Homo sapiens: one gene and its partner. The protein of the gene in region 1 purifies or fractionates together with the protein of each later gene. This does not show direct contact. Each region holds a gene or a part of one and is shown in the gene's direction. Other genes may lie near its edges.

Evidence for each region. Proteins that work in one complex are often made in the same cells at the same time.
Region 2: the proteins of GLS (region 1) and SUGT1 fractionate together in Homo sapiens (co-fractionation; one large-scale study listed by BioGRID). This does not show direct contact.

What each region holds. Positions count from the first base shown.
Region 1 is NC_000002.12:190,963,302-190,966,076, forward strand, and holds the end of GLS (glutaminase kidney isoform, mitochondrial isoform 1 precursor), read left to right. Parts: 3' UTR 1-2,251; downstream 2,252-2,775. UniProt on the Homo sapiens protein: Catalyzes the first reaction in the primary pathway for the renal catabolism of glutamine. Plays a role in maintaining acid-base homeostasis. Regulates the levels of the neurotransmitter glutamate, the main excitatory neurotransmitter in the brain.
Region 2 is NC_000013.11:52,655,836-52,659,494, forward strand, and holds part of SUGT1 (protein SGT1 homolog), read left to right. Parts: intron 1-1,696; coding exon 1,697-1,787; intron 1,788-2,263; exon of another isoform or gene 2,264-2,372; coding exon of another isoform or gene 2,373-2,391; intron 2,392-2,563; coding exon 2,564-2,633; intron 2,634-3,343; coding exon 3,344-3,414; intron 3,415-3,659. UniProt on the Homo sapiens protein: May play a role in ubiquitination and subsequent proteasomal degradation of target proteins.

The sequences.
Region 1 (2,775 bases):
TGATGATCTGCTGATATGCATTTATAAAGTAAGCTCTGTTGTACAGTCTGTCCAAATGGGTCAAGGTTGCCTTTAGAAGCAAATAGTGTGATTTTCAAGACTTCAAATACAAATTTAGTTTAAGTGTTTGAACAACTATATGCACTTACGGTTGTGTGTTTAAAATGTCTCTCTCACCCCCTAGCTTCATGATGTGACTCTTAAAAAACTATAATAGTTAACAACTGTTAGTAAGATAGACCAATTCTGATTAGACTTTATCAGGGAATCTGTTTAAGATATGTTTGGTGACCAAAACGTATGTGTGAATGTAGTTATAATGCTTTTGAAAAATTTTCCTTTTTCTATATCCCCTTAGTCCAGCCTCTCTTCTCAGACATTTAGCTATCTGCCTCTTTCCTTTAGCTGGGAAAGTGAGAGCTGGCATACTATGCAGTTTTTATGTTTTCCATAGTAAGTCAGAAAATGCCTCCTATTTCTGGCATCAGAACTTTGCCATTTGTCTACAGAAGACGAACCAGAGACAAAATTACTAAGTATAAATTAGTCAAGTTTATCAGTCTAAAAAACGAAGGGATGTGCAACTGCAGCTCTTTAAGAAGTTTTTTTTTTTTAGCTTCTAGGGTAAAGATAAATTCAGAAATGCTCTAAGCTACCAAAGTTATTCTGAAAGTATGGGAACTGCTACAACTAACAAACATTTGTTTCCAAGCCTGTCATTAAGAGTCTGCATCAAGAGATTTGTCCTCCTTGGGGGACCACTGGATCATTCCAGATTTCTTGTGATTTTTCTATTGTGTAATTCTTGGTGGGCTCTGTAGTTTAATAATAAGAAAAAGGCCATTTCATTTTAAATTGTGACCTATAATTCTTTGTCTTGGGTTGGTAATTCAGGATTCATTTGGAAAGTGGGTAAAAGGGGCTTCAAAAAACGGATAGAACAGGATTTTCTAGGAGTTACACATACATTTTATCCTGTCATACCTCGAGATAAAGTGGCATGTTAGTGAGGAGTTCTGATATTAAGCACACACACACATGCACACAAATGGACTTCTCTGAAGCTGTGTTTAGTGAAATGAGCTCAAGTACATGAATGTTAGTTGTTATCACATACAGCAAATTCCTTTTTTTTTCTTTTTCTATGAGCACACTCTGCTGCTTCTAAACTTTACATGCCTGATGGCACCTTACTCCAGCAGCCTCCAGGTGCTTTCATTTTCACTTCCAGTCTAAGCCAGTGGCTCCTGCCACTGCCCTCCCATTACCTAGATGGCACCTCCTTTGGTGAAACCACGGCCAATGTTCCTTAGCTGCACCAGGCCCGAAGCTGTTCCCATGCTTGAGCTTCCATGGGGAGGATGCTGAGTGAGCAGTTTCCTACCCCGTGGATCTAGCAAGCCATGGAGACAGGTAGCATTTGTAAGATGCTGCACAGGAGCAGCATTATCCCCAAAGATATTACAGGGTAGACACGTTTTAACTGAAATCAATCAAGATAACTTTATTCAAAGAGCAGCCCGCTTTGTGTGACTAAAATGAAACAAGACAGTTGAATTGTGTGACTTGAAGATTACCAATGATTTTGAGGCTTTTCTATAATAAAAAGAGGTTCTAACCATTATTTGGGAACAAAGAGAGTTTTCATCTTTTTTCAGATCAAAACCATTCTGTAAAATCTTTGTTGTTTAATTAAATGTGCCGTTATTTACCCCTGATGTTATTTATGACTATGTGCCGATTCCTGCTCGGGCTGTTTGCTGTTGGCTGGTAATAATATATTTGATTTAAATGCTGTTGACTGTGCTATTAACTGCTGCCGTCAGTAAACTCCAAAGATCTTTTTGTTTTGGCTTTAGTATCATATGTGCTTTTTCTGTATCCTGAGCGCTCTATATGATCATGTTAATTTAAAGCTTTATACACATTGTTGTTTTTGCTGGTCTCATCTTTGGTAATATGCTATACCCCACTGCTGCCCGACACTGCCCTTTAGCTGCAGAGCTGGATTAGCTGTTGACCATTTGATGCTGTTGTCTGTCTGGCAGGGACTGAATGACCTGATGTCAGATTTAGATTCTTCCTGGGGATTACACAGCTATGAATGTATTTGCTTCTAAAACCTCCCAAAGTGAATCTAATCTTAAAACTACAAGTTGTAAGTATTCTGAAATTGGGAAACATTTATTTTAAATGCAATCAGGTAGTGTTGCTTTTTACAGCATAATAAATATATGTATCAAAAAAAAAACTGTGTGGAAAAAATGAATTTTCTTAAAACAATTAAGAGCCAGGAACTCCACTGAGCATACAGACCATCTCTGGTTAGGTTCCAATCCATTTCTAATGCCTGCTATAAAGCTAGGTACTACACAAGGTGTCAGATGGGGTTGCCACAATGACTAGGACAAGAATCCTGTGTAGAGTTCACCTTTGAAGGTGAGGGATGTGCAGGCATGTCTCTAGTCCTCTAGATGCAAACACTATCCTTTTACAGTTAGGAAGTGCTCAGTAAATATTTGTTGAATGGAACCAGTAAACATACCCTTGAATGAGAAGAGAGGTTATTTTCACAAAGCCTTGAAATTTATTTAGAGAGTTGAAGCTAGTACTGCCACACTAGAATCTGAGTGTCACCAGCCAGTACACCTCAGCTCCTAATTTATTCTGCGTGGGAATAGCATTCGCTTCCAATGCCAGAAATCCCTGGTCTTCAGAGCACTCTTTCCTTTCAGGCCAGGGGTTAGTGTATAGTTTTCCAACCATAGAGAAAGT
Region 2 (3,659 bases), on another chromosome or scaffold:
TGCCCAGGACCACTGTCTAGGCTCAAGATAGACTTGAGTCATCAGCATGCATCAACACATATGTGAAGCCCCCCAGTAGTTAAGGAATCAAAGAATGTTTGTAGAGGGGAAGAAGTCTTAAGTACTGAGCCCAAGGAGAACATTAGTTTTTAAGAGGCAGCAGAATGGTAAGCTGAAAGGCCTGGTTATTATTGTCAAGGGCCACAGAGAGATCAAGTCAGATAGGAATCAGTTGGATTTTATAAGGGGTTATTAGTGACTTTGAGAAGATTAAGACTAGAGAGGCAAATATTTTTGTATTCTATGGCAAAGGAGATGCAGTCAAAGTAGAGACTGGGGAAAAGGCTGAAAAAAGTCTGCAAGAAGAAAAATCAATACTTTTCATTGAGTGATTACTGGATGTCACATACAGATCTAGGCAAGCCCAACACCCTGGAGTCATCTTCAGTTTCTCTTATCCCACATGTTCACCCATTAGCAAGTCTCTCTGCTTCTAATATGTTCCAACTTAATCGTATTTCTTTTCATCACCTCTGTGGCTAACATCCTTTTCTAGCCTAGACTTAATGTAATAGTTTCCTAAGAAGTCTCCGTTTCCAGTCTTGATTTGATAATGTATTTACCATACTGCAGCCAGAATGACATTAAAAAAAAGTAAATTGGACCATGTTCCCCTTACTAACAGTGAACTTTCCATGGCTTTCCATCAAACGTAAGGTCCAAATTCCTTATAACTGCCTGCAAGCTACAAAGTGAGGCCCTTAAAGTAGCATCTTACAGCTTCTTTGCTCTCTTGATTTGAGCCTTACTTTCTGTTGATTGACTGTAACCCCATGTGAGTTGAGGAGCATCTGTATATGTTGCTTTCTGAGAGTCACACTACTAGGTTAAAGCAAAGTCAATGATACATGTGGCTCTTGAAATAATTTTACCATTTAAGAAAACTACCAAATCCCTAGAGTTTGTAGGCAGTTGGCAGAAAATAAAAGTGTTCCTGCACTTGTCTTTGATCTCCCTAATTGTGTAATCTCTTACATCATTATTTTTCCAGCTACCACACCTATATGTTGTGACTGCACAAGTTAAAAAAGTTTCAATCTCTAATGTTAACTCTTGGTAGTTGACATAGCCATCTATTAGATTGTATCTGGGCTTTGAACAGAATATTTAGTTGGGTTTTATTAGAGTTGTGTGCTATTGTTAGAGGCTAGGAGAGGGCCAGGTACACTTGATTGTGTATGTATTGATTGTCTTAACCTCCCTGAGTGCTAGATTTAACTTCTGGTCTTTTTTTATTGCACAGCTTAACATTTTCTAGGAATCTCAAATTCTATATGGTGTTTGAATCTTCTTCAAATTAGTAGGAGGAAATCTGTAATGGTCAATGTGTAACAATTAAACTCTTCAGAATATATGAGCTGATAATAATGATCATTTATTAAGTTCTATAGACCAGGAACTAAAAGCTTTACGGTACAGAGATGCTACATTAGATTGCCTACTTTTGGGAGGAGGGGCAAGAGAAGTGGGGGAGATATTGATCCTTTTATAAGGAAAAACTCCAATATTATATCCGTGTTATCTTTCCTCCAAATAGCTTCTGACAATAAGTTACTTGATTAAAAATTATGTTTTAATTAGAATTTGATGGCTTCTTACAAACTTTTACTGACGCTCCACATGTTTGTTTTTGTAGGAGCTGACTAAGGCTTTGGAACAGAAACCAGATGATGCACAGTATTATTGTCAAAGAGCTTATTGTCACATTCTTCTTGGGAATTACTGTGGTAACGTTTCTTATAAAGTATATTGCCCCCTTTTAATAAGTTACTTATACATTTTACCCATGACAAATTAAAAGTTGTCTTTGAGAATTTTTAAATTGGTCTTTTATACAAGGTAAAGTAGCTCAAATGTGACAGACATGTTGAGCAACACCCATTTAAATTTTATGGATGTCGCTTTTTCCTTCATTGGGTGGAGAATGTATACAGATTTCATTCATAGTTATTGGGTATGCTGATAAAAAATAGCATCACATTTACTATTTGACAGACTATTAAAATGAAATGCTCGTTTAAATTTTTTTTATAAAAAAGAATGTGGCCAGGCATGGTGGCTCACGCCTGTAATCCCAACACTTTGGGAGACCAAAGCAGGAGGATCATTTGAGCCCAGGAGTTCAAGACCAGCCTGGGCAACATAACAAGACCACCTGTATTTAAAAAGTAATGTATTTCTGTATTTTGTACCTTCTGAATAGGGAAAAACTGAATACCTTGAGTAAAATTACATAGAAAATGTTAATGAGACAAGGAGGTGAATTTTGTGACACAGCTGTATTCATTGAAGAGCTTTAAGAAGGAAGCTAAATGTTAAGCCAAAAGGAAGGTACAAGAGTAATATTTATTTGAATTCTATCTTGTATTAGCTTTTCCTAATTTAAAACCATTTGGCATTTCTACCAACTTGAAAACTTAGAAATCTAAAACTGATTCATATGTTGTGTGTATTTGCTAGGATCTATAAATAACTGACTAAAAACCCGTCTTTTTCTACACAGTTGCTGTTGCTGATGCAAAGAAGTCTCTAGAACTCAATCCAAATAATTCCACTGCTATGCTGAGAAAAGGGTATGCAGTAGCTACTCTTCTTGTTGAGCTTGGTATAGATAGTAGGTATTTAATTTGTTGAATGAGTTCATTGCAAGCTTTATATAAGTTGTAAAATTCTGTATTTATACATTATATAGCAGAGATATGATTCAATTTTAAATACAACTTATAGTTCTATTATTTTGTTAACCAAAGTATGTGATAGGAGATCTGTACTTAGTAAATTTTAAAATAGTGATGATTGAAGTATTTGCAAGGTATAGATGAAACTGATAGATTTCACATTGCTTTTTTTTTTTTTTTTTTCAATCTTTTGGAATTTACTATATTTAATTGACTGGACAACATCCTATTCAGCAAAGCTGAATAGGCTACATTTAATGCTATGAAAGCGCTATATCTGTATACTTTATATCCCATCTTGTTTCTGTTGATAAGTATAACTATTCTTTAAGAAACTTCTTTAATTCCTTTGTATAATTATATTTTTGAGTAAGCAAGTCTGTACAATTAAAGTCAGATTCCTTCTGAAGTGAGTTCTAAAATTGAATTTTAGTAGGAATTGTACTAGATCTTAACAGTATATTAGAAAGTCTCTAGGTTTATTAACATACACTTAAAATAAATTTTTTCTTTCAACAGTAGAAAATACTAAGTTTTTTATTTAGAAAGAAGGTATTTTCCAGATTTTTTGTGTGTCTTAATTTGTTTTAAATATATTCATGCAGAATATGTGAATACCATGAAAAAAACTATGCTGCTGCCCTAGAAACTTTTACAGAAGGACAAAAATTAGATAGTAAGTATTAAAAATTATACTTTAATAAACTTATCTATTTCTGTCTTAAATACCAAAGCTGAATTTTGGTAATGTTAATTTCAAGTTAATTGTAGAAACCCAATACCTGTTTTTCTCATCTAAATTATATTTCATATTGATTGCAGATATGAGATCACTTAAAATCGATTAAATTAGCCTTTTGGCATTTAAATCATAGATGAACTTCACCATTAGAAGTAAAAAAAACTATGGAAACACCTAAC